Regions from separate parts of the Homo sapiens genome. Here regions 1, 3 and 4 are each reported to be linked to region 2. Evidence: microRNA targets listed by miRTarBase, many of them from high-throughput screens and not tested one by one. Region 2 holds a microRNA gene; each other region holds the end of a gene's coding sequence.

The links. The annotated mature microRNA hsa-miR-8485 reads CACACACACACACACACGUAU and lies in region 2 at 4,305-4,325, shown strand. An mRNA with a match to its seed (bases 2 to 7 or 8) in the 3' UTR can be bound and repressed. Matches are read on the target gene's strand: a 7mer-m8 pairs with bases 2 to 8, a 7mer-A1 pairs with bases 2 to 7 and ends in A, and an 8mer does both.
Region 1: miRTarBase lists ELK4 as a target of hsa-miR-8485. Seed matches in the 3' UTR shown: 7mer-m8 at 3,961-3,967, 7mer-m8 at 3,959-3,965, 7mer-m8 at 2,341-2,347, 7mer-m8 at 686-692, 7mer-m8 at 684-690, 7mer-m8 at 682-688 and 4 more.
Region 3: the mRNA of PAPPA is a reported target of hsa-miR-8485. Seed matches in the 3' UTR shown: 7mer-m8 at 4,393-4,399 and 8mer at 2,336-2,343.
Region 4: the mRNA of STAG1 is a reported target of hsa-miR-8485. Seed matches in the 3' UTR shown: 7mer-m8 at 6,408-6,414 and 7mer-m8 at 6,406-6,412.

What each region holds. Positions count from the first base shown.
Region 1 is chr1:205,610,104-205,618,322 of GRCh38, forward strand. It overlaps ELK4 (ETS transcription factor ELK4), which reads right to left. Exons shown (of 5, transcript NM_001973.4): 5 at 1-6,541. The coding sequence ends at 6,443. Among named protein-coding and RNA genes, the nearest start is that of ELK4, 18 kb to the right of the region's middle.
Region 2 is chr2:50,692,278-50,700,496 of GRCh38, reverse strand. It overlaps MIR8485 (microRNA 8485), which reads left to right and starts at 4,235; the gene lies at 4,235-4,325. All of the region lies in intron 5 of NRXN1 (neurexin 1), which reads left to right.
Region 3 is chr9:116,395,750-116,403,929 of GRCh38, reverse strand. PAPPA (pappalysin 1) reads right to left here. Exons shown (of 22, transcript NM_002581.5): 22 at 1,609-7,421. The coding sequence ends at 7,314. PAPPA-AS1 (PAPPA antisense RNA 1) reads left to right here and starts at 3,324. Exons shown (of 1, transcript NR_103711.1): 1 at 3,324-5,773. RefSeq lists an enhancer at 7,995-8,180.
Region 4 is chr3:136,331,584-136,339,563 of GRCh38, forward strand. STAG1 (STAG1 cohesin complex component) reads right to left here. Exons shown (of 34, transcript NM_005862.3): 33 at 6,787-6,867; 34 at 4,653-6,694. The coding sequence ends at 6,671. Among named protein-coding and RNA genes, the nearest start is that of PCCB, 85 kb to the left of the region's middle.

The DNA.
Region 1 (8,219 bases), not on the chromosome of region 2:
CTTTAGGCATTCTTGAATGATTCCATTGGCTAGAACTCTGGGCCAGCCACAGGAAACCCCCACCTCCTCCCCGACCCCATCCAGAAGATCCCAGGCCTATGTGAGCATGACTCACAATCCTTGGAAGGGAAAAGAACCAGAAGGAGCCTTTATGAGATGGGAAACAAGGCAAAGTTGAGAAGATCATTCAGCCCAAGACACTCCACTCTGAGGTTTTGGCTAATACTAATGACATACAGTTTAAAAGGATAAATTAGGCCACAATACCAGCATTCCTCCACTACTGTATTCAATCCATGGTCGAATCTCTGTACTTTAGAAATACTGCTTCCAGTATAAACCTCCTCTTTGAGAAACTTACAAACTAATAAAGATTTTACACAAAAGCAAACATAAATGTAGAAATTTTAAGAAAGGACATCCTTATTTGCTCAATAATACATGAACCTAAGAGAACAGTTTACTATGACTTTGTTTAGAGTATGTCACATGTAAGCAGTGTATTTCTAAAATGTTGGTGAGCAATTCATCTTTAAGGCCTACTGAAATGTGCAAAGCATTAATCTTTTAAAAAGTGGCAACTGCAAAGTGCAGCAAATTTTTTTAAGTTTTAGTATAAAATAGACTAGGAGCCATCAATGTATGTTCCCTATGAAAACAGATTTACACGCGCACACACACACACACACACATTCAGTCAATACATCAGTATATATGCATACACATACATTTACTAGGACAATAAATCAGAATGACTTGGAAAAAGAAATGGTCTAGTCTCCCAATTAAATATTTCAAAGTAAAGTTTTCAACCTCATAAAACTTCCTGATGTGGACTATACTCAAATGATTAGCACTCAAGAGATTAACTATGTTTGATTGTATCCCTCATGAATTTTCTTGTTAAAAGTTTCCTTTAAAATTATGTCAACAACAGCATGAATTTCCTGTTTTCTGTAGAAAGCTTAGAGCCAGTATTTCCCCTCTCATACAAACCACTCTGGATTTTCATATTTCACAATAAGTAAGTGTGGATGGCAGCACCTTAGAAATTGCTATTTTCTGGCAGGCTATCAATCTATCATAATTTTTTTCAGAGAAGTGACTTGAAGAAACTGACAGTTTCAAATGAAACAATTATACTACCATTAACGATTCACCTTTCAGATTTGCTCGGCTTACAGGTCAAAACATGACTTGTATAGTAACAGGTTCCACCAAGTACAAGAAATAAAATCAAACCACCTTCTTTTCTTAATACACGACCAACCACAAGAATTCTAGATCCTAAGATTAAACTTCAACTTCAGTAAGCAGAGTTCTGATGACATAAGAGGAATAACAGGGCACTTTGTTTCAGGCAATGCCAGCAACATTAAAACAATAACAAAACATTTGTTGATCCCAAACCAAGAATATAATTCTATTTTCCACAGAACCCAGTCTCTGGTTAGAGTACCTGCTGAAGAAAGACAACTATGGCTGACCTCCACACTTCACTTACACTACTATGGACTGAACAATTAACTTCTCAATACTATTTTAGAAATAATATATTCTATCATAGCTTCAGATGACACACTACATCATGAGTAGTATTTTAACTTTCCTATTGGTTTGGTAATTCATTTAGAGCCCCAGATTTCTGCACAGAGACCTGCATTGGTCTCCAAACTTGTTTTCATACCTAAGAATGGCACCTAAGCACGATTCTAGACTCCTGGCACGGGTAAATAAAACATATACAGTCAATGAGGTTAAAAACAGAACAGACCTATAAAGAAAAGTATTCCTTTAGTTGCTGAAATATCAGATTTTAAAAATCAAAAACTTATTAATGCAGCAAGAAAATGTAACTTGTTATATATTTTAACATAAAGCAACTTGAAATAATTCTAAATTTGTTGGTAAAATATAACATAAGTCCCAAAGAAGTCTGTGAGCAGACTAGTAAAATAAAAATAGAGTCATACCTAACATGAAGATAAGAGACAACAGGCTGACGAAAGTAATAGGAATAAAGCTGTGGAAAACATGTGGTAATGGATTATTATTTGGGAATTTATCAAAAAGAATTAATGTGAAATTTCAAAAGTTGACAATAAGCTCTCCTGAAAAACTCCAAATCTCTAGGATTTCTCCATATATCATAAGAGAGCATCATATATGTTTGGAGATTAGAATGAGAATATCCTGAGTCAGCAGTCTTTAGGAAAAGCGTGTGCTTCTGGAGGGTGCACAAGACAACCAACTGGGGTGTGGGAAGAAAATACTATAACTGCTACTCAAGAATTACTTTTTATGCCATCCTTCACTTCAATTTTTGTGTATTTTTTTATAACACACATATTACTTTGGTATAGCGGTATATAATTTAACATATACCCATATGAATTTTTAATAGGGAAAGTTTTTATGTTCAATAACTCTTACTGATCAATTTGTGTGTTCAAAAAGGCTGGACACTCCTTTTCTGAACCACTGCTTCAGAGGTATTGAGAAGTGGTACTGAGTGGCTCTAAATGTGCTTACATTCACCAAAAACATAAAAGGACACCTTTAAGAACTTAAGAATCATAGTAGAAAGTCAGATCAGGATGAAACAATGTTGTCAGACTGGACGTCACACAATGCAGGGGTGAATGGAACTGAAGTGATACTATCAACAGCCTGGAGTTACAGCTCCAGAATTCCAAACCTCTGATTTACTTAAGTCAGTCTTGACTTTTAAAATCTGTAATATAGTATGTAAATCTTCAAGGAATTTTCCAGTTAAAAAAAATCCAGTAGCCTAATAGAGGCTCATAGGTTTACTGTCCCTATCAAAATTTCAACTGTCAAAATGTGGGAAAAAATTAAACTCATATTTTAACTCTAAGAAGCTTACGGTTGACCTTTCAAGGGCCTCTAATTCTTTTTTTTTTTTCCTGACCGTACTCCTCAAAATCCAGATTGTTTGTGCATACATTTAAAAAAAAAAAAATCAATGGAAATTTCCACCTTTGTTCGAACACATAAAGTATGCCATGAGCAATATAACATCACAAACGTACTGTGACAAACCATTAATAAAGAAGGATTACTAAGCCAGGTGTGGTGGTGCATGCCTGTAGCCCAGCTATGCAGGAGGCTGAGGCAGGAGGATCACTTGAGCCCGGGAGTTTGAGTCCACCCTGGGTAACACACCAAGACTCCATCTCTAAAAAATTAAATTAAAGGATTACTGAAAGATCTCATTTCTAAAAAAAGAAAAAGAAAAAGATCACTGAAGTCAGACATGATATTTTAATTTTGTATTTTGAAAAGTCAGTATATAAATAAGAAAAAATTATTTTAGAAATTATGTGAAAATCCACTCTTGGGTGGAGTAAATGCAATGGTTTGCCAGCACTGGCTCTGAGCCAACTGTGCACATCCTTTCTGAACTCTAAGGTGGTAGCTTGAAATCAGCCACAGGAGGAGTAACTAATTTATATCAAAGAATTTGATATAAAATTCTAATTTATATTAGAATTTTATTTATAATTTATATTTGCAGCAAATGCTACAAATTCAGCGCTCCCCCCCACCCCCACCCCAGAGATCCTGGTTGTTAAACATTTCTAGCACACGACTGAGTGGATAGCGACCAGAGCAGAAGGAAAGCTAAGGTATCAGAGAAGATGTCTCAAAACCCCATTCAATCTGCTCCCCTTCCGTAACTTAGGCTACTGCTGCCCAACAGCATTCATCCTGGCAAAGTGACTAGGGATGGATACGAGCTACAGCTACCAATTACAAGTCTCTCCAGTGAAAACTGATCTGAAGTGGTACATCACCTTTCACACTAAGAATTCTGCATATATTCAACAGAATATGAAGCTGAGACTTTTCCAGGAAGGAGGTAGTCTATAAACAGAACTGTCTGCCTCATACACCTGCAGTAAGGTTGTAAACTTTGACTTAAAAAAGGATACGCACACACACACTTCTCCAAATTAGTTGATCTCAAAGAGATAGCAGATCACCAATCTGTGACAGCCTCACACCTCTGAGAGGCTATAGATTTATGCAAAAAGGACTCACTAAAATGGTTTACTAGGAAGTTGCTTCAACTGAGTTTCAATGGTGCCCTTGGTTCCAAGGTACCTCTGTGCTGAGACAGTTAATTATTAAAAATACTGTCTGTGAAAACAAATCAATGGCTTTTCTCCTTTAATTCAAAAAGATAAAATACCTTTGTGCTTTCAAAATTTAACACATCTAGTTAAATCAACCATCTATATCTACTTATTTAATGTACAAAATGTTAACCTAATTAAAACTATTTCAAAGTGCTGCTGAGAGGTCCAATTTCAAACAGGCATGCAAACTAAATAATTTAATATGGAAAAAAAAGTCCAATATGTCTGTTCCCCATCACTATTAAACAATACCTTTCAACACTACTATTGCACATCTCAGGAACAGAACCTTCAACTGATAACCACAAATGAACCAGTAACAAGTCTCCGACACTACAGATATAAAGGCAGCTCACTGAATATGTTCCCTCTACTACTACTAAGTTAGCTAGCATAGATGTCTTCTTATACAAGAGCTTCTCTACACTGTATATAAGCACATTTAAAGTAAATACCATGCATCTGAAGATGCTAGTTTGTAACAGTGTCAGTCTGAGCCTTCAAGTTCTTACTTCTTCATTTAGTTCATGTGATTCTACAGGATTAGAAGACGAGTTTAACCGGTGGGAGAGATTGGTGGGGGAGGGTGGTAGTGGTGGTGAATGGTGACAACATATAATTTAATCCTGGACTTTAATTTTCAAAAGACTCCACTGTGATACTGATATCAATTCAGTTTGGGGAACCAACAAATCTGTACCTGGCATTGATTACCATATAGTAATATTTTAAAAATTTGGTAATGTAGAGAATAAGGCCTACATTTTTTACTACTAATATGAACAATCCAATCCCTATGTATAAGCATTCCCAAATGAACTCTGCTCTTCCCCATTTAAAAAAAAAAAGTTGAAAGAAATAAGCACATCTGAGCCTGCGCCTTTGGGAGGCTGAGGTGGGCGGATCACAAGGTCAAGAGATCAAGACCATCCTGGCCAACATGGTGAAACCCCGTCTCTACTAAAAATACAAAAATTAGCCAGGCGTAGTGGCGCATGCCTGTAGTCCCAGCTACTCAGGAGGCTGAGGCAGGAGAATTGCTTGAACCCGGGAGGCGGAGCTTACAGTGAGCTGAGATCGCGCCACTGCACTCCAGCCTGGGTGATAGAGCAAGACTCTGTCTCAAAAAAAAAAAAAAAAAAAAAAAAAGGAAATAAGCACATCTTCGCTCCTGACTGGGGAGGCTTCACTTTGAATTCTACCTTCCTAACTGCATCTTTAAAACTATCATAACCTCTAACAACCTTAAACATAAAGGAAAGGTGATAAATGTATAGTAGAAAATGAGGTAAAATGAACAGGAAAAAGACAGGTCCTTCACTTGGTTATCTTCTAATTGAGAAAACCACTACATGTTGTTTCAAGTTATCTGATCGAATCTTTTACTCAGAGATGTTTCAAATATTCAAAATCCAAGTTCATCCTCCTAAAAGTGATCATTTCCCATGCTGTATTCCATGGGCATATAATCATACCACCCAGAGGGCAAAGAGCATTTCTGTGCTAGATGTGAGGTCCCATATTCTTACTAGGTGTTCCAAAAACTGTCTTAAACCCCAGGTCTAAAAATCTTTCTATAGTGAAATAGACTAGCTCCATGCTCTGTTGACAGGTTCAGACAGGATCATACATATGGCTAAGAGATCCACCCTGAATAAAGGTAAACAAGATGCCTTTTCATGGAGTTGCTTACACGTTATAGTTCACACAAAACAATCTCCCCAGTATGACTGCTCCAATCTTACTTTGTATGAATAGGAATGATTCTTCTTCTTCCACTGCTTAGGAACAGCTCACTTTAAGTCATTCAACAGAGCACACTTAGTCCTAAAGATGCCAATTCATTTCACAAATATTTCTTTAAATAATAGATTCTAAGCATAATTTTTCCTGGCCAAAGGGTCCCAATAGCCAGAAGGAGTAACTTTGTTCTTAATTGCTTTTGCAAAGCACAGTCACTAAAGCCCACCAAAAACTTCTTCAGCACAAAGCTCAAAATATTTTTAAAGGAGAAAAGAAAAGGAAGGAAGGAAAGAAAAAGAAAAGGAAAAGACAGAGGGAGGTGGAGTTTAGACTCCAATTAAGGCATTTTTATACATATAGTCCAACTTGAGTCCTATTCAAAGAGAATCCTAAAAAGATGTTTTCAATGGGGAATGGCAAAAATCACAATAGTCTATTATCAGCATTGTAGAACTATCAATTGCTCACTTCAAATGCAATCATGTTGAATGTCTGTTTCTTCGTTCCTCGGTTCTCTCATTCCACAAGTGCATAGGTTATGTCTTCTGTAGGTCTGGGGAAAATGGGCCAGGGGTGGAAGGTCCATCCAGCCCAGACAGAGTGAATGGCCCATGACTGTTCAGTACAGAAGGAAACTGAGAAAGAAAACAAAACACATTATCATCCTATTACTCAACCCCAACTTTTACTTTCTATCCTACTCTATTACCTGAGGCAAAACACAACAGCCTTCTGTAATGGCTCACAGGACAAAGGCAGTGGCTGTTTATCATGAAAGAATATGATGTCATAACAAAAACTAGAAACAAAAATCTTTTGTCCTAACATATTAAATATTAACATTCTCCAACTTACCTCAATGGAGTAGAAACAAAGAACAACCTGTACCCTCCTTCATATCCTAAGGTACACAGGTTTACAATTAACCTCAAATGAAGGTTTTAGAAAGTTCAAGTAAATGACAATATGCACTACAGAGTGTAATTCAATTATGGAGCAAATCATAAACCCTCAAAAAGAGATCCAGAAAGGTATAAATAGCACTCATCCTAGAAAAGGGTTCCCCATCAAGTATTCTGAGGCCAGCTCTACAGGGAGATTCCAGGCTGAAGCTACAGGAGCACTATGACTTTGCTTAAGGTCTCAGCTGACTCTATAACTCAATTATCTGCTCATGTGTGGCAATGAAAAAAAATATGAAAAATTCTCAACTTTTTTTTCTATTCAATAATTTTAAACGTTGGCAAAAAATAAAAAGCAGAGAGATTTTTAATTTTCCTCTTTTTCCCTACCATTTCATTTCTAAAAGAATGAGAAGTTAAATTACAAAATATAAGAAAATCAGAGATAGTCAACCATGAATAAGTAAATGAATTGACTCCAAGAAAGTCTTTAAGTTATAACATCTAAGTGTTTTGGGCAAAATAATGGCTAAACCCATTAGGAATGGCAAGAACTTTCCTAACGTCTTGGTGAAGAGATAATATTCATTTTTTTAAAAATGTACATATAAAATGTTGATAAATTATCAATTCTGACTGAGGGAGAAATGGGACTGTTTGATATACCATTTTCAAGACCTTTCTCTATTAAAAAAAAAAAAATGCTTGGGCCGCGTGCAGTGGCTCATGCCTGTAATCCCAGCACTTCGGGAGGCTGAGGCGGGCGGATCACCTGAGGTCAGGAGTTTGAGACCAGCCTGATCAACATGAAGAAACCTCGTCTCTACTAAAAATACAAAATTAGCCTAGCATGGTGGCACATGCCTATAATCCTGGCTACTCGGGAGGCTGAGGCAGGAGAACCGCTTGAACCCAGGAGGCAGAGGTTGCAGTGAGCTGAGATCGTGCCATTGCATTCTGGCCTGGACAACAAGAGCAAAACTCCGCCTCAAAAAAAAATTTTTTTTAATCTTTAATTAAAAGAGGGAACCTATGTGCAGAGATCCCCCATATATGTGTGTGTGTGTGTGTGTGAGAGAGAGAGAGAGCAAGAGAGAGAGAGAGAGTGTGTGTGTGTGGATTTTGTTTTTTTGAGACAAGGTCTCACTGTGTCACCCAGGCCGGAGTGCAGCGGTGCCATTATAGCTCACTGCAGCCTTGATCTACTGGGCTCAAGCGGTCCTCCCACCTCAGCCTCCCAAGTAGCTCTAGGGGCCACAGGCACGTGCTACCATGCCTAACTTAATTTTTTTTATTTCTAGTACAGACAAGGTCTCCTTAGGTTGTCCAGGCTGGTCTCAAACTCCTGAGCTCAAGCAATCTTCCTGCCTCGGCCTACCAAAGCGCTGGGATTACAGGCATGACACACACA
Region 2 (8,219 bases):
TGCCTAGGAAACATGTGATCTTTTATCTTATTTTTAAAATTTCACCTACATTTTTTTTCTCCTGTGTTTTGGCCCTGCCATTTACACCATATCTTGTCCAGAAAAATTGCCATTGGCCCAGCAAAGGATACAGTCAAGTTGATACAGATGTCATAGAAATTAAATGGAAGAGTTGTGCTCCATCACTTTGACAACTAAATTACATGGAACTCAGCTGTAGGTCAGGTGCTGGTTACTTTTCCAAATGGAGCTTGTGGTGGAGCAATCTCATTTGACACTACTAACAGTTTAGATGACTTTAGATTTGGATATCCATTTGGATTCACTTTTAAATTAACTGCTCAAAAATTTTAAGAATAAAGTGTCATACGGAAACCTTGCAAAGAGTCCTTTATCAAAGGACAAACATATATTCAGAACAACTAAAGGAACAATTTTTTTTAAAGACTATTAGTTCTTCTACTTATCTTTTAATTATGCAAACATACCTACTGTGTGCATAATTTGTAAGTTAAAGAAGGCAGCAGGGTGAGTGGACAGAGTGCAGTACTTGGAGCTTAGAGGAAGTTGGTGGTTTTGTGTGTCTGCTGCAAGGGCTATTGGAATTGAACATGCCATGAGTGCTTTATTACTTTCCTATGGTTGCTGTAAAAATAGCCAACAATGGCTTATAACAGACTACATTTATTATTTCACACTTCTGTAGGTCAGAAGTCTGAGTATCATGTGTCTAGGGTAGGTCCTCTGCTTGGGCCAAAGGCAAGGTGTTGGCAGGGCCATGTTCCTTTCTGGAAGTTCTGAGGCTAAGTCTGCTTCAAGCCATTCGGGTTTTTTGACTAAATTCACTCCCTTCTGGTTGTGGGCCTAAGGTCCAGTTTCCTTGTTGGCTGTCAGCAGGGGGCCTGGATTTTGGTTGGAGGCTGCCCTCATTCCATTTCATGCTTTCCAGGTGCCCCTTCCTCTGTCTTCAAGCAGTGGGAAGTGAAGTCCCTCTCATGCTTCAGATGTCTCTGACTTCCCCTTCTGCCACTTCTCTCCTGCTCCAAACAAAGCTCCTGCTTTGAAGAACTCATGCAATGAGTTGATCCACTCAGATAATCCTGGATCATTCCTCTGTTTCTAGATCTATAACATTAATTACGTCTTAAGGACATATTCACAGGATCTGGAAATTAGGATTTGGACTTCTTTGCTGGTGGTGGTGAGGATTCTGTCTACCTTGGGTGGTGAATCCCAAAAGTTATAAGGTGTGAATATTGCCAGAATATTAATTTTTGGGTGGATAGCTAACCAATGCTTTTGTTTCCATTTAATCTTTATCATCCCATACTAGGTTTTAAGAGAAAAGAGTTTGTTGGAGGCTAGATCCTGCTATCATTTTGTGTTTCCTGCATGGTACATACAGGCTGCACCATGACTGTCTGACAGTCTCTGTCTTTAGAGAGGTTTCTGCCTTTAGAGAGATTTACAGGCACTTTGAGAAGATAATTAACAATACTATTGTCAATTGGTAGTATAGGTTCTTAATGCTCTAAAGGTATATATAGAGAGAACTTTTTGTGGTAGAGCTATGAGTCAAATTTCATGGAAAAGACTACTTTGGACAGCTTTAAAGTGTACTTCAAACATGGAGAAATGAGAAAGAGAGAAACAGACAGACATTTCATAAACAATGAATAGCAAAAGCATGGATATCAGGAAAGAGAAAACCTTCTTTGAGGGCAATTTTAACTGGAGAAGAAAGTTCTACTGGATGTTTTCTAGGGAATAATGGAGACTAGTTGATGAGATTCTGTTTCAGTGGTTTTCACATTTTTGGATTCAAGATCCCTTTTTACTTTTTAAATGTATTGAAAACCTCTGAGAAGTTTATGTTTGTTGTATAGGTTATGTATATGTATTAGTGTTTACTCTATTGAGAATTGACTGAGAAAACATTTATATATTTATTAATTCATTTTAAAATAGCCACCACATTGCATGTTGCATGTTAAAATAAATTGTGTACTTTTATGAAAAATAATTATATTCCAACACTAAGATAATTTTGTGAGAAGAGTGACTTATTTTACATTATTGACAATCTCTTTGATGTTTGGCTTAAGAGAGCTAGATTCTCACAACTACTTCTGCAGGCAATCTTTTGTGATAGCATATATCCTTTGGCCTCTAGACAGCACCGTTGTATATTTGTGAGATGATGAAAAAGATTTTGGCCCTTGGCCCTCCCGAAAGTCTCAGGGACTACCAAATGTCCTTGGACAACATTTGAGGACTTCTGTCTTATACTGTCAACGAATATCTACTGAGCACCTACTAAGTGCCAGCACTGCTGTACGGGTGGGAAGTACAGGACAAACAAGACCATGACCCTGCCCGCACAATGTTTACTTTCTCATGAGAGAAGGAGGATTCTAAAGTGAAACAACTAAGATGATTTCAGATAATGATAGGTGTTATGAAGAAAATTAGACTGGTATTAGGATGAACTGTAGTGTAGATGGGGTTGTGTTGTTATTTAGAGCCAGATTAACGAAATTGGCTCAAGGCAGTGACTTTAAGTGAGAGTAGCAGGAAGTGCAGCCGTGTGAAGAGCTATGGAGAGCTGTCTACTTTGGGGGAACAGCTGGTACAAAGCACCAAGGTAAATTGAAGAGTTAAAGGAACAAAAGTGCCAACCTGGAGGCAGAGAAAAGAAAGAAAATGAAACAAAGATGTGGGCAGAACCTATTTTATTTGAGGCCTTGTAGACCATGGCAACCCAGGATTTGAATTATATTCTAAATATTATTTGAGGATTTGAAGAAAAGAATGATGTAATCTAATTCACATCTTCAAAACATCACCATAGTTGAGAAGTGAAGCATGGGCTACAGAAGAGCAAGGAAGGGAGAGAGGAGACCTTTCAGGGGAGTGTCGCGTTAGGTTCGGATGAAACCACAGAGGAAGTAACAGGCAGTCATTACGTTCAAGATGAAGGTACAACTGACAAAACCAATACATTAATTTTCCTTTCAGTCTGATTAAAATCCATTTCTCTATCTGACCATTTCTCTAACTTGTCAAGTTTCACTTTGAAAGATGCTCCAGTATTTCAAGGTCTTAACACTCTTTCCAACTTTTGTCACACACAAATTTAATGAGCATCCTCTCTCTTAGACATCATTGTAGCATATTAATCATATACTGTCCTAACTTACCTTATCAGCTTGTGACAATGAGTCTTTTCTAAAAAAACTTTTCCTGTATATTCAAAATGAAGACTAATGAAGTTTATTTATACAAGCTAAAAATATAACACTCAGAATTACGTGTGCAAAATATTCCCTGTAAAGTATATTTTATTTCTCTTTTTCACTTCCCATCTGCCCCTTCCAAATACATCTTTGTCTTCTGGTTGTTGAGAGGTTGCAGGGTATTCATATTGTCTTATTGCTGGTACAGTAGGACGTTTGTGTATGACCCAGCTTTGTTTGTTAAGGTGCTTGAAGTAAGTAATATGCTCTCAATGAGACAAAAGCAACAATTTGGAAACAAAAGTGGAAATTAACAATGCCACTGGTTTCTGTTTAAAGAATTTATGTATCAGGCTTTCATTGTGAATAAACTCAGTAAGCAGCTACTCAAATGATGTGATTACATGGTCTAGGAATATACTCTTGGTCTCCAAAATGACTTCTCTATGACTCCTGGTAGTATATGAAACTTAGTAATTAACACTTTCTACCATTTAAATCAAATAAATATGTTTATCTCTGTGAAAATTCAGGTATTCTTAAGAGAGCCTCACTGATCCTCACCCGAAAATTCATGCTTTGGTTTTAATGGGTGTGCTTGCTGGTTTCTCTACAGAGAGCTGCTTTGACAGTTGCAAGATAAAAGAAGAAATAGTTGCTCAGAACCACAAAGAAAATAAATAGACATTGGAAGAAGAGGCATAAACAGTTTTCTCCGCCTGCTTCACCCCATTGCCTTGGCTTTTCTTGTCTTTCTTCTACCTTATCACGACCTTCTTTAGCAAACTATGATTTAGCTTAGAGGAGAAGCATGTTTAAAGAGTTGTAAGACAGGTTTTCTTTTCTAACTCTCCATCAGAATATTACTTACTTCTGAGACTGTTTTTCTTATTTATAAGAAAGGAGATTTATAACACTGTCAGCTATCTGTGTGAAGAATTATGTACATTTCAAATTCTCATTTTTTCATATGTATAGAACATTTTATGGTCTTCAGTTCTGTGATATACGTGTGTGTGTGTGTGTATATAGCATATGTGTATACATACACACACACACACACACACACACACACACACACACACGTATATGTACTGTCTTTTAAAATTTCCATAGTCGACTGGGTGTGGTGGCTCTTGCCTGTAATCCTAGCACTTTCGGAGGCTGAGGCGGATGGATCACCTGAGGTCAGGAGTTCAAGACCAGCCTGCCCAACATGGTGAAACCCCATCTCTGCTAAAAATACAAAAATTAGCCAAGCATGGTGGTGGGCGCCTGTAATCCCAGCTGCTTGGGAGGCTGAGACAGAAGAATCGCTTGAAGCTGGAGGGCAGAGGTTGCAGTGAGCCAAGATTGTGCCACTGCACTCCAGCCTGAGTGAAAGAGCGAAGCTCCATCTCAAAAAAAAAAAAAAAAAAATCAGAGTCACTCTGGTTAGGCTTATTTCCCTAATCCTTTGGAATATTAGTAAAACTGAGGCTCAAAAAACTAATGCACAAAGTCATATGGATAAAAAGCGATATCTAACCATTTATCTTCAACTCTTCCTACTATAGCACGTCGACATTTATTACCGTGTTCTAGATAAAAGCCTTCTTAGAACTATTAACATATTTCACATATTTTAATCTCTCAAATTTTGTTTCTCGTTTTGTACAATAATTTGTGCTCCTAGAGGAAAGCAAAGACTTAGTCTAATCTCTTTGTCAAATGGAAATAGACTAATGTTACTTACTATGAATAAGAGACTATATCTCTGTCCCTAGCAAGATGTCTCTGGCTAAGGGATTACCCATAGTTAATAGAACCCAGGATCTATGAGGCAGGGCTACCTGGAGCATATGACATAAGGTACACCACTTTATGTTATATGATGCACCTTATCTGAACTTGATAGCTTATATCCTTGAAATTATTTAGCAAAGCTTGATGCTGGGCAAGATCTTTAATTCATGTGAGTCTGATTTGACAATCTAATCCTCACATTTGTCGGTAAATAATACAATTAAAATATTCTGAAGGAATCTCAAGTACAAATACCAAAGATAAGATGCCTTCCCCCCACCGCCACCCCCTTACCCAGGTTGAAATGTTACTGATAAAATATGTTGGTAAATAGTCTCCCTACTGCACTGGTGAAATCAAAGCCACCCTTAAGCAGTGAAGATGGCTAATTTAATTTCAGTAGTTATAAATCAAAATTAAGCCTAGGAAACTGGACCCATAAATGGCTGCAGAGAATCCAGCTGTGTTTATTCTAAAGGCACTCCCAGATCAATTTGCATGGAGGTGATTTGGCTATGAGATAAGGGAACTGTCTTTCAGCCCCATCAGTTAGAACAGTCACCAGGATCTAAAGTACCCAATCAAGAGAATACCCCGCAATTAATTTTTTATAAGCCAAGGAAAGACTATTGCTAAAATGTAGAATAAAGCCTTTATTTTGTAATGATTACTTTTGTTCCAGAGAGCATTTTCTGGATTAAATATGAATATTGGGGATAAAAGGATTAACCGATTTTACCTCAAATTCAGTAAGATAAAGAATGTAACCTCCACCTACTCATAATCAAATCAATTGATTTGTTCTTTGGTAGAATTGGTTTGATTTTCTTTTCCCTACCTTGAATTTAACCAAAGGATATGATGCTTCTTCGATTCTGACTTTGTAGAGATGAACAGAGATAAATCAGTTTTCTTGAGTGTTCAACCTTGAATGGACAATCCTCAGACTTAGAAATAATTATTTCAACTAACAAATATAGAAGGTTATGGAGACACAAAGAGGGACAGATTCCAAGGAGTTTTATTATTTACATCAAATGTTTTTTATAGTATACAGCTTAGAAGTTGACTGATTTATGGTTTAATTCCAACTATTATATATTCACCCATACATTAAGAGGGAAACCGATGCAAAAAGATAAAATAACATGCCCAAACAGACAGAATATGTAAATGTAAGAGACAGTGCTAGAACCTACCTTTTCCCCTCAAATTTCTGGAATCTTTTCTTTCTAGTCTAATCCATTAATTTACAAAGTTTAATTATATTCAAGTAACAATTCATACGTTTCTATTTGGTACCCATTATTTTAAAATGCCATTAAACATCACTTGCTAAATCATACACACGTTAGTCCCTAAACCTCAAAATAAAATGCTATGGGCTGGACGTGGTAGCTCACACTTATAATCCCAGTGCTTTGGCAGGCCAAGGCAAGAGAATCCCTTGAGGCCGGGAGTTTGAGACCATCCTGGACAGCATAGGAAGACCCTATTTCTACAAAAAATAAAAACAATTAGCCGACCATGGTAGTGGATACCTATAGTTCCAGATACTCAGGAGGCTGAGGTAAAAGGGGGACATGATGCCAGGAGTTTCAGGCTGCAATAAGCTACGGTTGCACCACTGCACTTCAGCCTGGACAACAGAGTGAGATTCTGCCTCTAAAATAAACTTCAAAATTAATTAATTAATTAAATGCTATGAAGTATACTTTAGGTTGCAGACATATCTGCAATTTTGAAAATATACCAACTTTCTGAAGTTGAGTTAGTAATATAGATATTAGGTCCTAGTTACCATCTCTTTATTTTCCCTTCATATTTTCCTTTGCAGTTAGTGGTTGCAAGCTGCATTTTAATGCAGAAATATCAGAGTTCATTGATTCAACGTATTTATTTCAGTAGTGCAGTTGTGCCATTTTTGCATTTGTGGTCTCACATTTTGTTCCTTGCCAGTTTATTTGACCTTTGCACGCAATTGTAGGCAGGAGGAAGTCCAAAAGTCCCTAGGTATAGTGGACCAAAGGACCACAGTTATATTCTAAAAAAACACCTCCAAGAAGTCAGGAGGCAGCTATGGCAAGTTGTTTAACATCCGACTCTTACTGTCAAGTGGAGCTGGCCTTTACCACACCAGTCTCCAATCTTGGCACCTCAGTCTACCTCCTATAGTTATTCGGTTAGCATTTAGTATTTAGCATATTGGCATTAAGCACTCTGTTTCTGTTAATTACTCTACCAAAATCTGCCCACAGGATCTATATTTTTCCTTTTGTATTCTCTCCTTTGGATTTTTGCCTTTTAAATCTACTTTCTCCTTGTGATACGAAAAACCTTGGCCTATCAGAAACTATTCAAGTGTCAGCATTCAGCAGCAAAATGGGTTTAGGGGACTGGGGTAGGGCTTACAGTAAGTTTCTCGACTTTGCATCCAGTAGGTATTTTTCTAGTCCACCCATCAATAACATTGACACAGTAACTGATAATTTAGCTCTTCTCATTTACAAACTTCACTTAAAGTGTTGTGTCTTCCCACATTGCTCTTTTTAAATTAAATATACACTCATAGATTGTCACAGATTGGGATGCAGGACCAATAGTCACAAAATGAACATTTTGACTGATAGATGAAGAAACAATGATTGATGGGGTGCTTTCCTGTTGTACTAACATGAAAAAGCTGACAAGAACAGATCAGAGGGGGTGTGAATACTTGTTTAAGTGCAGTACCCACAGAGTGAATCATACTACCCAAGGGGAAAAAGAGAAAATGAAAAAAAAGCCCTCCCCAATTTTTAATCTTAGGTCATTATTGCTGGCAAATCTAACGAGATTACAAAAATAGCTTTTTGTTGATGGATCATAAAATAGGGATAAAGTTGTGGTAGATGATTGATTTTGATTCTCTGTGTTATATCATATTTGAATGTGGCTTTCACACTCTGATTAGAATTTTAAACATGTCTGGGAATTAAAAAGAAATAGAAGTTATGAAAAAAAAATCTCCACAGAGTAGCTTCTTAAGCAGACTGAAATGTTTTGACCTTGAAAAGATAAATCCAGAACAATCTAAAAACAAGCACATAATATTACTGCTAACATACAACACATAGCATGTTAGTGTGTTATCACAAAGTAACAATAAAATAGAAACCACTAGAAAATAAAAAAGGAATGATGCTCAAAACAGGATGA
Region 3 (8,180 bases), not on the chromosome of region 2:
TACTCTGTGTGTGTGTCTGTGTACGTGTATGTGCGTGCGTGTGTGTCCATGTGTGTGTGTGTTTAGGGCTGGAGAAAGATGGAAGAAGATACTGGGATAAAGATCTTTCATCTTGAAGTAGGAAGCTCTTTGCCCCATGACTTTTTGTCTCTTCAGACGAAACCAAGGAATATAAAAAGCCACATTAAAACTCTCATCTTTTAATCTTTCTGTTTGAGAAATATTTGCCTCTTTTCAGGAGCCTATTGTCTAAATGTTGTTTCAATCTTCACATTGAATAGAACTGTGTAAAATATTTTTCTTTTGTCAATTATTTTACTTTGAAAATAACCAGTTATCTGGAAGAATTTAGCAATGACTTTTTTTTTCTTTTTTAGTAGTCTCCCTAATGTTTCTCCATGAGTTATATTTTTAGAGTCCAAAAAAAAGCCACCCCACTATGAGTAGTTCTTGACTTCCCTATCCCTGCCCTTACACATAATTCACATTGATGTTCCCACACAGCCTTTTTGTGAAAAATTCAAAATGTAGTTATCAGCAGATAAACACATATTTTGACCTGCCTTATGGTGGTACTGCCAGCTAGCAGCTCAGTGGACAGTGCTAATAAATTTACTACATAAAATGCCTGTGCAAGCTCTTGAATGATTCATGCATTTTGTTTCTATTATCTTATAAAATAAGTAGATATCAGAAAAATTAGTGTATTATTACTTGTCATAAGTAATTCTGGTCTCATACTACTCATAATGAGATAATATAATATGTTCAGCACTGTTCTAAACACTTTGCATATTTATCTCATTTAATTCTAGCAAAAACCTTATGAAATACTTTTATTATTTCCATATCACATATGGGAAAACTAAATCTTAAAGCCATTAAATAATTTTCTAAAAATCTCATAGCTACTACCTAGTGATAAGATGAACAGTGAGATACACTAGACAGATTGAAAGCAGCAACATTTCAGTTCCAGCTGCAGGCTCATTTTCACATATGTAAAATTATATATATGTGTGTGTGTGTGTGTGTGTGTGTGTGTGGAGATACATATATATATATATATATGTATATATGAGCCTGCATATGCATATATTGTGTGTATATATGTATATAAAATATGACATTTTAATACCGGAAGAGTAAGAAAGAGTTCATCTTAAAAGATAGAACTCCACAAGAATGAACAATTGACCCCACATTTTGCCTTAGACAAATGAAAACTTAGTTATGAACTAGCTCTGATCCACAGCTTAGCACTTGGGAACCACTGCACTGGTTTGTGTCTTTGGACCATACCAGTGTTTACATCTGGAAGTATATTATTAAAGGCTGTGTGCAAAAGGCAATATATAACCAAGAGTGACATATGCTTTAGCTCCCCAGAACTTTCTTATAACATGTAAGAAAGTTTTTCAGTTTTTGCATATGCAAAATTAGATACTTTCAGGAATTAATTTTGTAGAGGAATCGATATATATTGGATAAAATCTTGTTCTATCATTGATTGTCTAATTCCAGGCCCCAGGGCTCTCTCCATGTTAGCGTGTATATATGACAGCCCTTTATCATTCCGCAACACACAAAAACCACACAACAACACACTGAAGCGTACAAGCTATTATATATTTTCATAATATAGAACTTTAAAGTATAGTAATCAACAGTGGCAAAATATTTCTGTCTCTGACATTATTATTTGTGAGATCCAACCTGTAATTGAGATCAGAGAAAACAGTATGGGAAAACAAATCCATGAGAACAGGATAAAAATATCATGAACAGCAAAATATGTCTGAGTATTTAAAACTGTATAGAAAAAATAAATTAGATGAACAATTGTGTAAATATAAATTAAAAAAGATGACATTCTTAATAAATAAAGTTTACTATTTACATTTTTATATATTGCCAAAAGATTTAACTTAGATCCATAAAAACACATAAACAGAAAAAAAAATAGGAGCAGCAAATTTATGCGCGTGAGGTACAGAAAAAGGATTGGAATTGTGTTTAGTTTTTGGTGTTTAGATTATTTTCTTTGTGTCTTTCTTCTTTTTCTTTTTTTTTTTCTTTTTTACAATAGGCCAGAAGAATTCTTATGAGAACAGCTTTTAAGCACTTCAATGGAGTGTCATTTTTTTGGTAGCTTCCAGAAGGTGCCAAACAGGTTTCAACATCATATTAATTAGAAATACCCATAATAATTATAACAATAATAAAAAGGTATAATATGGTACATAAATATGGAAGAGCAGTTTGTAATATGAATACATTTTCTCTAGACGAGATCACAGTTTTATTTTGTAAATATTACATTTAAGTATATATATACACACATATATGTACAACTATATATACATGTGCATATATATGTAAATTTATATTTATATATAATATCTTTATATAGATAGATATCTGCAGACAGGTTATTGATTATAGAGACCCAAGAAAGCAACTCAATAATTGTTCAAAGTTTTCCTCACTGACTGCTGGTGTGTAGTTTAAGAAGCCCCCATTTGTTTGCACTCAGAATGCCTTATCTTCTTTTAATGGAACACTTGATGTGGAATTTTAAGTCTGAGAAGTGAGGTGCCTTCTGAAGAAGAGATTTTAGAGACTCCCTTCCTCTATAAGTTGGAAATGACCAGAAGTCTTAAGTAGACGACAGTTAGCTGACTTTGACATTGTAGGACATAATCAGCTTTTAACCAAATTATAGAACTGGTAAAGGGTAAGATCAAATTTGCCAAAAAAATAAAATATTCTCCAATACAGGTCTCTCTTTTAAGGTGGACTACAATTCAGGAGCTCCGGCTTTATTCCTTGAAATATCAAACAAGCACTCCCTGTCTTGTCTTTCTAAAAGGCCGATGGGCCTGTGCATTCTTGAATAATAACCCATGGACTTTGTGTCAAGCGTTGGCCCTCACAGCCCACCTAAAACCTCAGGGCCTCAAAATCTCCTGCCCTCCCACTGTGAGGTAGGTATATAGTATTATCCCCATTTTGCAGCTAGAGAAACTGATGCAAATGTAGAGGCAATTGGATAACTTGTTCAAGATCACTGAGCAAACTGCTGCCTGGAGTCAAAAATTCTAACTTCTGTACAACAGGGACATAATTTCTCTTTTGGCTATTATACATTTCTTTTAAAAAGCAAGTGATTGGTAGGAATTTGGCAAAAGTTGAATAAGTTACAAGAACAGGCTTTTATTCATTTGCTATTTGGTTTTTATGTTTCTTGTTTACTTCGTTTGATTTGTTTCTCAAAACTCACTCAGTGGGATTACCTGTCTGTCATGTAGCAGCTTTTTAAAAAACTGGACTGTGCAGTGTGGTTCTGAGTGCAGTCTTTATAAAGCCCAGTGCTGTACTGGTAAATATAAACATTTTATAACGTGAAAAGCACAACGACACAATATGTCCCCTTAATAGCTGGAAAAACCAATATAAGCCCTCCCACTCCCTACTACCACTGATTGCCACCAAACAAATAAACAAAATGCCCACCCCACCCAACAACAACAATAACACATCAAGGGGGAAAATGTCATATTTCCTGGACCTACCACAATGTACAGAAAATAACAGACAGTGTTATCAAATCCCACTCTATGTCTTCTAGGGAAATCTTTATGTTTGTGTCTACCTACTGAGGCTGTAGAATAAACAATTTCCTTTAGGAAACATAAAAATAGGTTTTTTATTCTTAGTTTTTAATCATGCATTTTTATTTCCTTTTAATCTCTTTGTCTTCTATTATCTCTATCTGTACAGCTTTGTCACCATTTTTTTTTATTTTCTCACTTGAAGTAGTTCCAGAAAAAAACACAAAACCTCAAAACTGTTAACTTGACCTTATAATTTCCTTTCTCTTTCTTTCTTTCTTTCTTTTTCTTTCTTTCACACAGGTAAGACCTATAACAACAAATTGACAATTACAACCAAGTTAAATCGAACCTGGAAGGGAGGTAGCTGAAATCTGTCTCAAAGAATTATTTTCAACAAATAGTATTTAAGCATTGGCCAGGATGGGAATAAGACCAAGAGAACCGTCTAGGCAGTGACTCAATGTGTTGAAGCCAGGAGTGGCAGCTGATACCCTGCATTTTCAAAGCCCTACCATCTATGACAATCTTTCCCTTCCTTAACACCCCAATTCACCATCAAAACTCATTTCCCAAGGACTGTATTTCCTTAAAAGGTTGTTGGCACAGAATCTGGGGGTAATGCAAATCCTTTGGGTAGGTAGTTAAGATTGTGGCTTGGAAAAGCTTCCCTAAATAGGGCTTAGAGGACTGTCCACCTCATCTTTCATATTTTGCTGCTAACAATCTAATACTTCAGATGCAGAACCTTCAGTGTTTTAGGGCCTTTGAGCTGCTGACACACAATAGTGCATCAGAGCTGCCTCTCAGTGCTCCGGTCACCTACACAGAAGATGACTGAAGGAATGAAATGACGAGTTAATTCCCAGGAAGAAAATGAAACTGGGAACAAATGCATTGCCCAAATTGAGCTGACCCTCCTCCACTAAGGTTTGAAAAGACCCTATTAAAGATACCTTCCATGTGGGCACGAGGTTGGCCACCAATCAAGTAGCCTCTTTTGCCTAATATCCTTGGCAAATATAAATTTGTTAGCAACAGGTCTGAATGAAAGAGACTGGGTGGGTCTTGATTCAGAAGAGCTGAATTCACTCTGTGAGTCTGAAGATACAAGTCAGCCTCCAGGAATCTTTGCTTAGCTGGATAGTGTGAAAATAGATGATGATGGGAGTGAAGATAGAAAGAGGATAAGGACTGATTTGAGGGAAGCTGGTAAGGTTCTTCTGTGGCTCCTGAAATCACATCATTAGTAATGTCATCTTTGGGTCTTCAGAGCTTTTTGTATTACCTATGGGTATAATTAAGCAACTGGGAGGGTTGATACTGTTACATTTCTTAGCTTGTACCTTCTAAGGTAGTTAACACCACACAGGCTGATAACTCAGGGCAAGAGAGAGGCCTGGAGAGTTGACAAGAGTGTGAAGATACTGGAGAGGGGTTCAAAATAGGATCAATTCTTCTAATACTATTCTTATTTCTTGCTAATAATTTGTCCTTGTAATTATAGTGAAGTAATGGTCTGGATATAAATGAGATATGGTTTTGTGAGGAAGAAACATAGAGGATTATTCTTAACAACTGTGGCAGCCTTGCCAATATGGAACCCAATTTCAGAGTTTGTGAAATGGTACAAGTCTCATAAACTATCTCAGCACTGCATCCGTATTTGTGGGCACCTGTGCCAAAAGCACCTTGATATGTTTCTTAGTGTAATTGGCCAGAGATGGCCAATAGATGTCTTCTCAAGTGTTTTTGATCACCAGGTCAGTGCTATTGGGAGTGATATAATATGGTGGTTCCTAAAGTTATTTTTGGTCTCTTTTTTTTTTTTTTTTTAAGTGCTATGATAGATTAACAACACCTGCCTTGGATGCAGGAATTAGGTGGGGCTGCACACGTGCATGGTATTTTCTATCCCTATGCTAGGTTTTGTTTCTGTTGGCTGTCTTCACTAGACTTGAGATGACTTGATTTACAGTAATCCCTATGTGATGTAACTAGTCTAGACCTTCCCTTCTCCGCAATTCCCAGCTCCAGGTTTCAGAAAGTATGCCACACTCAACCCTTCTCTCCAGTTCATCCTGTATTAATTTCTTCCCATATTAATTCAAAGGGAGTGGACAGGTCCCTGGCTGAAAAGAAATAAAGAGATCCCCAAAGTGGTGGGGGCTTCCACGTGCAGTTGACTAATTTTCACTTAACTTTTGGAGGCTAGACATGGGAGAGAGAAAAGCACTGCCCAGTCACAGGTATGGAAGGGAGTACTGCTAGCTGGAAAAACCATATAGAAAACATGATGACCATGTTGAGTTGTTGGTGCTGAGGCTGTGAACTCTTTGGCTTCCTTCTGATGGCCCTCTTGAGAACAATCTGTACTGTTCTTATAAAAGATTCTTTCTCCCAGAATTATATCTCCTCAGAGCAACAGCAAGGTTCTCAGGATCAAAGCCTACTCTAGCCTGAAGGGCTAGGAAGATTAGGATAAGGATAAGGATAATAATCCAAAAGTCTCGACAATTCCAGTAGTCTCTGGATGGCTCCAACATCATAGAAATTTAACACTGTTCCACTTGTTTACAAAATCTAACACTGGCTTAGACATTCTGGACTTTCAGTGAGGGTTCCAGCATCTGATGTCCCTCAACTCCTTTCCAGGGTGAGAGGCCCACTTACAGGAAACTTAACTTCTCACCATGTGGACCCATGAGGGTTTTTCTCTTGCAGAAGGGCTAAAAAGTGAGGAGCTATGGAAAAATGTGGGTCACTTTTAAGGCAGACTGTTTGGTTGTGTGGAATTTTTCCTAACCTAGTTCTACCATCTTGGATTATTCAATGTATAGGATAGAGCAGCAGGAAAAGTAGCAGCAAATGTGGTCCCAAGGCAAGATCTGGGGGAACAGGTAAGTCCTAGAGGGATATTATGACCTCAAGCCTCAAGCAAGGGGCTGATATAATACCTTGACATTGCAATCCTAAGCCATTCTCAGATTGGCCTCGAACCCTGGAGTTGGGGTAAAATCCCCCATGGCAGCAGAAGAATTGGGGCGCTTTGCATACCTGATAATCTTTACCTCTTCCTAGGTCCTAGTTCCCTAGAAGGTAGGGGATCACAGACTGTTTCACTTCCAATCCCAAAGGACTGCACAATTGTGCATGTCCTACATATTCTGAGCCTCAGAGTGTGAACTAGCTTGACATCTCCACACTTGGTCTTAGCAGTTTCTGCAAATTTCTTTCTCCCAAGGATAGTGTTGGCTAGGAGCTTGGGAAAGAAAAGATTGAGTTTATTCCGGTCTCTCTCTGCTCATCTCCAGAACTGCCCTCACACAGATGTTTGTATGGGTGTGTATGCATGCATGTGTACTAAACACAGATGGGCACACTCTAGATATAGAACACGTTTCTTGCTGTGGTTGTGTGACAAATGGCTAGAATTTTAGGAGGCTCTGGGACTGCACACTGTATATGCAATCCATCTCAGACTTTGGGATGGGAATCCATTTCATCATCCAGCATGGCGAAACTTGGTTCATTCGCCCCAATGTGAGTCCTTCCTGGGTAAAATTAAAGGCAGACCGGTTGGGTGCTAAGGATCCCTGGTGTGGAGAGGCCATTCCGTTGAGCAGCTGACTGTGAAATCAATACCAAAGGGATGTGGGTCCTGGCGTTGGGAATTCTTTGACAACTTCTTGTCCTTCCTTAGCCATGGCTGTATCCCCGGAGGTCTTTCCGGCTGTGTTCTTGGGCCTGGGGGTCCCGACAAGCACAGTCACCTTGTAGATCACAGGACATAGGGAATGGGGTGACCTGCAGAAAGAAGAAGTGAATCAGGTGATTTGGTCTGAAGCAGTAATGATCAGAAAGGCAGTGCAGCGCAGGGATACAATCACTGGATTTGAGGAGCAGAAGGTTCAAGTTCAAGTTATGGCTCTGCTTCTTGCTATCCTGGTGATAACTTTTATCGAGCACACCATGATCATAATCACAGCAGTTTTCATTTGCAGAGGCACTTGCTATGGGTCAGGCATTTGCTATGGGGTAAGGCAATGTACTCAGTGATTTCCAAACAAGAAAACACTTTTGACAACTCTATAAGACAGATGCTGCAACAATCACCCTTTTATTGATGGGGAAACTGAAGCTCAGAAAGGAATAAGAATTTGCCAAAAGTAATAATAAGTGTCAAGTCTGGTATTTAAAGTAAAACAAGCTACTTACTTATCTCAGAGCCTCAGGTCCCTATGTAGAGCTGATATAATAAGACCCACTTTGTATTTTAAACTATAGGAGCTGAGTAAAATCATGGGTGGAAAATTGTCGTGCACTGTAGCAAAGTTGATTAATAGAACTGTGTAATGGAATATCTGATGTATAAGTGATCAAGTGAAAGAAAGGATGTGGAAGTGTCTTTTGAGAAAACATAAGTCTCTGCACATACTGGTCACTTTGACTTTAGTAGGCAATGATGAAAACAAAAAGCATGTCTCAGGGAAGCTAGACCACCTTCTGGGAGGCTTGGAATCCTGAGTAGGGAATAGATCGCATGGTGGTTTTGCACCAAATTTG
Region 4 (7,980 bases), not on the chromosome of region 2:
TTAAATAAATAAACTTTCACCCAATAATTTTAGTATTCATTGATGATTTTTGCCTCAATCAATGATTCTGCATTGATTATAAAATGTTGAGTTTCTAACTCTCTCATATTTATTAGTTGGAACTCTAGGTAAGGAAGGGAGCTTTCTTTTCTCCTGTTTTTGTTTTCTTAGTATCATTTTGGACTTGATTTATTTTATTTTATTTATTTATTTTTTGAGAAGGAGTCTCGCTCTGTCGCCAGGCTGGAGTGCGGTGGCGCAATCTCGACTCACTGCAACCTCTGCCTCCCAGGTTCAAGCAATTCTCCTGCCTCAGCCTCCCGAGTAGCTGGGACTACAGGTGTGTGCCACCATGCCCAGCTAATTTTTGTATTTTTAGTAGAGACGGGGTTTCACCATATTGGCCAGGATGGTCTCGATCTCTTGATTTCGTGATCTGCCCGCCTCAGCCTCCCAAAGTGCTTTTAATATATCCCACTGATTTTTTTAGTATTTCGTTATTTTCTGACAAGATAATGCTCTAGGCTTATCTTGTATTTTCCTTGCCCAGCCCAGGAATCAGCAGTTTCTCCAAGGAGTTTCTTTAATAGGTATGTAGTAGTAGTATATAGTAGTTTCTTAGTTTCTTTTAGTAGGTATGTCATTTAGAAGCTAAAATTGGCACTAGGTATTCACACTGATACTGGATATCATTGCTTTGAGGCATTTCAGCAGACAGAACTAGGAAAATTTATGCAAATAAGTGTGTGTATATATATGTGGGACACATGTATATATGAATACATATTTATCATACTTTTAAATCATGAGTTCATACTGAAACTTTTAATCCAACACCATGGGTGCTTCTTTGCCTTCCCCCATTCTGTATTGTCTCTCTTACCACAGCAGTAATAACCCTGGCTCCCATTATTCTCAATATATTTCACTCATTTGCTCAGTGCTACCATAAATACAAGTTTCAGAATCACTACAGCTCTATCAACAATAAACCTTCTAAAGTTCACGACTTCTTTGTAGTTCATTTTGTCTTTAAACTGAAGATACATGGTTAAGCTACCTCAATTAGTAACTGAGTGGTTATCAATATGAATTAGTCCTTTTTGTTTGTAAACCACTTTAAAGCCTTTCCTCCTACACTGTTGACTTGATTTTACTAAGTTAAAACATTAATAGTTTTACCGAACTGGAGATTAAGTTTGAGCAGAAGTACCAACCATGGAGTGCTGATCCAAGATGCCCCCCCACCTCAGGCATCCTCTCTGGTGAAACCCCAGGGCCCTCCCACTACTGATGGCTTTCCCTTGGCTCCAGAGATCTGTAAGCACTGCTTGGACAGTGAATCATTATTTCAAGGTCAACTTAATGTGTGACTGTTTATTCTCCACTTTTCCCATTTCAAAAATATTTTCCCCTACCCCCCATTCCCAGTAGCCCTTAAGAGTCATTCTTTTTTTTTTTTTTTTTTTTTTTTTCTTAAAGCATCTTTCCACTCTCCTTCAGTCACCAATCCTAGTTGGGCTCTGAGGACTTTTGCAGCAGTCTCTTCACTGATCTCTGTGGCCTCCCACTGAGCTGGAAGTCCTGTTCTCAGCTACCATACTAACTCCAGATCCAGATTTTGTTGCATTCCTCTGCTCCAGCGCCACTTCCAGAGCTCCCTGTTCTCCAGAGTCCTTAGCCCACGTAGGTGGTCCTGGACAGTCTGTCCCTCCCTTGCTTGCCTAGTGAGTTTTCTGAGCCCACAGTTCTTGTTTTCGTGATCTCTGCTATGGTCCATAAAAGAGTACATACAAGCTCTTTTTTTTCTTTTTGGAGGTAAGAGTCCAAGAAGTGTTTCACCAGGTTGTGCAGTCTGGACACCGAGATGGTAGAGGGGCTGTAAGATGGTAGAGGAACCAGCTCAGGAGAGCAGCTGGGCTAGCAGCTTTACGGAAGCCTTGGATGGTGGGGAAACTCCCGTACAGAAACTCAGCTGGTCAAAGAAACTCAAAGCCACAAGACCTTGGAAGCTTTGTCAAGTGGACCAGCCTCCATGGACCACGGAATACCTTGAGAGTAATGACAGTTGAGTGTTCTCTTGTGTGGGAATGCCTTCCCCAGCTGGTGCCCTCACCTTAAAGGGAAAAAGAAAATACACTGAATTTTGTAAATGGGAAATACTTGGGTCCACTGAGCTGATAGCTGACAAGTGTCTGTCTTTAAACTGAGAGCAGATAATATGGTGAGCTGTGGTGTAGGAAGCACTGCTAGGGTCTTGCTGGTCCTGCCCCGCCTTGTGTTAATCCAGTTCCTCCTGAGCTACACAGCTGACAAGTGGTGAAGCTGGGATTTGAACTCAGATGGGTTTGACCCCAGCCAAGCCTGTGTTCTGATCATTTCAAAGTACTACCACTCAGCTGATGAGGAAGGTGAGATGGACTTCTAAGGGTTGGCCTAAGAGTAGGGGTGAGGGAGGTTGGTGGTCTGTTCCCCTGGGCTTGTCTTAACCCAGAAAGCTACTACATTTAGACAGCTTTCCTATCTCCCGCATGATTCTCTTGCAAAGCAGTACCAACAGATGGCCAGTCATCTTTTTGAGTTGCTAGAGTAATGGGGAGCACATCCACAATACACCCTTCTAATGCTTGTTAGAAAGTGCTTTTGTTGCAAAGTTCTTCTAGCTTCTTTTTTTGACCCTGTCTTGGTCTCCCCAGCCCAACTTTCTGCCTCTGGTTGCACTGATACTTTGTCCTGGTGCTGGTGCTTAAGATGTGGTCTGCTCAGCCAAAGAAGTCTGTGAAGGATACTCACCCACATGTGGAGTTGATGAATCAGCCCTCTTCACCTATTCAACAGATGTGACTGTTTTGTCTTTCTGGTTCCAAAGGATTTCTGGAGAGCTATGACTTTACCCTTTTAGAAGTATTGGTCCTCATACTCTGTGCACCTCTGATGTCAGCATGGGATTTCTACAATTCCAAGCAGGAGTTGCAGCCACTTGATAGGCAGTGCCTCAGTCTGGGGCCTCTGTGGAATCCAGCTGGCATATTCCAGCCAATGTGGCAGCCTCAATAGTTAGTTAAGTTTTGACCATGTCCCTACTGTCCTGGGTGGTGAAAATACTCCCTTTATGTGTCCTTGGGAGCAGAAAGATGCTCTTCAAAAAGTGGTGCCTGATGGAGATCTCCACAGAACAAGACACTCAGAAGGGCAGGGATAGAATCTTACCTGAGCTTGGTCTAGTATGAAAAGCCTAAGGCTGGGTGCGATGGCCCATGCCCTGTAATCCCAGCACTTTGGGAGGCCAAGGCAGGTGGATTGCTTGAGCTCAGTTCATGACCGGCCTGGGCAACATGGTGAAAGCCTGTCTCTACTAAAAATACAAAACTTAGCTGGGCGTGGTGGTGGGTGCCTGTAATTCCAGCTACTTGAGAGCCTGAGGCAGGAGAATCTCTTGAACCCCAGAGGCGGAGGTTGCTGTGAGCTGAGATCACACCATTGTACTCCAGCCTGGGTGACAGACCGAGACCCTGTCTTCACTTACCGCCCCCCCCCCCCCCCCGAAAAAAAAAAGGCAAGCCTGAGTGGCATCAAACCTTTGTTTCCCATGAATATACTAGTCCCTGCTTGATGGACTGTTACCTGGGAACAGGGGCAAACAGGGAGTTACAGTCAAGCCACAAATGGGAGATTTGCAAGCCTGACCCAAGCCTGAAAGTGCTCATCTAGTCTCATACTCTTGTAACCATCTAGATGAGCTGTTACAGACCATCCTTAAATGACCTTCCTTCCTTGGCTGTCTGGAAAGCTTGCTTGCTGATTTGTCTCCCACACCTTTGCCTTTTTTGCATAGGCATATTAGGCCATTTAAGGAACTCACCCCCTATTGCCAGACCCATGAAGTGTGTAGGGTATGACTTCTTAAAGAAAGAGTGAGGAGGTCTAATGCCAAGAGAAACTTTTTAAGACAGTCTGGCTCTGTTACCTAGATTGGAGTGCAGTAGTGGTGCAATCTTGGCTCACTGCAACAACCTCCACCTTGTGGGCTCAAGCCATCCTCCTACCTTAGCCTCACGAGTAGCTGGTGTGCGCCATCATACGCAGCTAATTTTTGTATTTTTTGTAGAGGAGTTTTACCATGCTACCCAGGCTGGTCTCGAACTCTTGAGCTCAAGTGATCCACTCACCTTGGCCTTCCAAAGTGCTGGGATTACAGGCGTGAGCCACCATGCCTGGCTGAAAACTTCATTTCTGTAGCTGCATTGACTCTATGTGGTCTTCAAAAGGGCACTGCCAGGGTGCAATTATGCATGTAAGCCCAGAGTCTCAAGCCGTGAGGACCCATGCTACAGGCCAGTGGATGGGTGTTCCCTGAATGCCTCATGCAAAACTCAGTTTGCAAGAGACTCCCTCTTAAACCACAGATGACTTGGCCTACACACACTCCAGAGAAATCTAAGGAATGAAAGAAAGTGAGCTATTCCTAAATTCTGCTTTCTTAAAAAAAATTAAAAAGCCAAAACAACAAAACCACCAACTCACTAATAAGGTTAACTTGCTGCCATTTAACAGATTATCAGAAATTGCAAACTCTCTCAAGAGCCACAGGACAGAAAATCATCTCTTTAAAGCCATACCTGGTAGAAACAATAGGATGACTACCACAAGCCTGATTTTGAATAGTTTATTAAAGGAAAGGTGAAGCATCAGTTTCAAATTGTACAAAAGGAAAAAAAACCTCATATTGCAAATGTACAATTTACAGAATTACTAGCAAAACCAATCAAGGAGACACCGAAAATACAAAAATTTGATTGACTTCAAACTGAACTGGAAACCCATTGGAGTAGATATTTAGCCTTTTTGTGTGGCATGGTAGTCTACAATTCTGTCAGCATCTGTTTTCCATACAAGACTGTCACGCAAAGGATCAATTTGTGCATGTGCCAGGGCACCTCATGGCTTGCTCCCTGGCCAAAACCACAGGCAGGCAGGGCTGGGGTGGACAGTCCAGTCATTCCTGCACCTTCACTTCCAGTGAAGCCCACAATTCTGGGAGAAAGTGAGGCCCCAGCTCCCCTAACTGGAGCCCAAGAATTGCTGAATTAGCAGAGAAGATATTTTTGGTGACCAGGTTTTTTTCAGAACTGTACAAATGTTGAGAAAAATGTTTTGTGTCTTTACTAAAAGGATGAATAAAATCATCCATCATCATCTTGCTTTCCCGCACAAAAGATGATCACTGGGTGTGCAGAATTTTAAAAAATGTTTTTCGTATTTGATAAAAAGGGAAAGCCTCATGATTCTGTTGCAGCTACTTTAAAAACCAGCCCAGAAACAGCTGTGGATGAATTGGTTTGGAAATTCTGAGGCTTACTTTAGAAATCAGAAAGGAAGAGAGAGACTAAGTGGGGTTTTTAAAACAATAGCAGCAAGTCATAAAAGTCTAGGCAGAATGTAACTCTAAACCATTGTAGACTGTCCTGAAGATTCATAATTTCTTTCCCCAAAAGAATTATTCTTAATATGCACATTTAACACTGAAATGTAGCTGTAATTCAAGGTAAGCTTAGGAACTTCACCCTCTAAGCACAGACTTCTATGCAGCACATACTTCTATAATCAGTAAACTTAATTCACAAAATTAGCGCATAAGGGTATTAAGTGCATGGGAAGTAAACACAGTTATGTTACACTTAAAATTACTTTTGAATGATTGATAAAGGATTTCTTCATGATTGATTATCTTAAGAAAATGGAAGTCTGTGTAACTTGAATTTGGCAGGGCATGAAATAAGTGGTAAAAACAGCAAACTGATAACTTGAGAATCATTTTCGTTTTACTGAGAATACTTTATTTGCTGGTAGAAGTTGCTAAAAATGCACAGAACAAATACCAATAGAAAATGCACTGTATTTGAATCTCCCTAGTCTATATAAAATGAACGGTGTACAGCATCTGTTGGAAAAATGGCTGCATGGACATTTCTTATTTTATGCCCACTTATAAATAAAAATAAACCTTTTATTCAAGAGTATATAAAATCTGGGAATTCATATCCATATCCACAGAGGGTGTGTGGTTTTTGGCAGAGATGTACTATGTCAGAATTTCATCTTAGCTTGTCAATGTTCTGCTCCTTCATTATTTGTGTTCCACAAAGGTCAACCAAATCCAGTGAACTCCAAAACACTCTTCGCAATTAGGATGAGCTGCTTACTCATAGGTTTAATAAAAATGGTTAGCTTTTAAAACATAAAAAGGCAAAATGTTAAAACGGTTTTTAAATTGTACAACAGGAAAATAAAGTTAAAAATATGTTTTTTTTTACTCAATGTTGAGTTTTCATAAAACAGGTGTATAACAGTGTTTATCTTGACAGCTGTTTTAAAAATTTAAAATTTCTTCCTCCCTCCAGAAAAACACACACATCTGTATTGGGATAAGTCCAATAGTAGGACACAAATGATTTTCAGGTCAGTCTTTCTGAGTTGACATTCACCAACATTCCCTTGGGTAATTTACATGCTCCTCTTCTGTCACTGCAAAAAGGGATTGACCTTAATCATTTGATTAAAAAACAAATCAGATCACATCAAAAGTGTTTTTCCCCATACAAGCTATCACAGTATATAGGCCTCTAGCTCTAAATAATAGAGTTCCAGATTTGTAAATTTTCTTCAGACTTCAGAACATAGGCATTCCAAATCCCTAGAAAAATGATGAGAAACATAATTATTAATTTCATGCATAAACAGGACCCAGGAACCATAAATAAAAAGCAGTAATAATTTGACATTTACTGAATCATCTTCTATGATAGCTGCAGAGTCAAAGAAGTCTGGCCTTAGCTCAGCTCTCTCTCGCCGATTTCTTGATGGAGGCTGGAAAGAGAAATCGGTTTCTTAATTTTTTTCTGAGATCATTAAGACAATGAATTGTGATAATCAGCTAATATTTCTGACAGTATCATAAATATATGGAACTGCTAAGAGTCAATTTTGAAAGGAAGAAGAGAATCTGGCTTTTATATGAAATAGATTTTTTAAAAACAAACAGTACTTTTGGCTTTTAATTATGTTGGCAAAAACAAGGCACAAAACTTTCAAACTATCATGAATAAACAACATGTTAATACATATAAATAACTTTGGGCCTACATGCCCAGGCCATATCTTCCCTTTAAAGTCACAGAAAAATTACAGAATTCATTAACTACTAGGTGATAAACCTCTGTGAATTCCCCAAAGCAGGTAGATGGAAAGTTATTGGAAGGTGGGGGCAGGGAGATTATAGATTGGAGTAATATGATCTCATTTATATTTACAAAACTTACAAAAACTTTTCATTATGGAAAATTCACAACATACAAAGCAAAATGTTACGGGCTGAATTATGTCCCTTCAAAATGTGCATGATGCTGAAGTCCTAATCCAGTACCTCAGAACATGCCAGTATTTGGCGACAGGGCCTTTAAAGAGGTAATTAAGGTAAAATGAGGTCATATGGGTGGGCCCTAATTGAATATAGTTGGGGCCCTGATAAGAAGAGGAGAGACACATATAGGAAAGACCATCTAAAGACAAAGGAAGAAGGCAGCCATCTACAAGCCAAGGAGAGAAGCCTCAAAAGAAATCACCTTCATCTCAGGACTTCTAGCTTCCAGAAATGTGATAAAAAAAATAAATTTCTGGGCCAGGCATGGTCGCTCACACCTGTAATCCCAGGTGGGCGGATCACGAGGTCAAGAGATCAAGACCATCCTGGCCAACATGGTGAAACCCCGTCTCTACTAAAAATATAAAAATTAACTGGGTATGGTGGCATGTGCCTATAGTGCCAGCTATTTGGGAGGCTGAGGCAGGAGAATCGCTTGAACCTGGGAGGCAGAGGTTGCAGTGAGCCGAGATTGCAGCATTGCACTACAGCCTGGCAACAGAGCGAGACTCCATCTCTAAATAAATAAATAAAAATTTGTTTACCCACTCAGTCTGTGG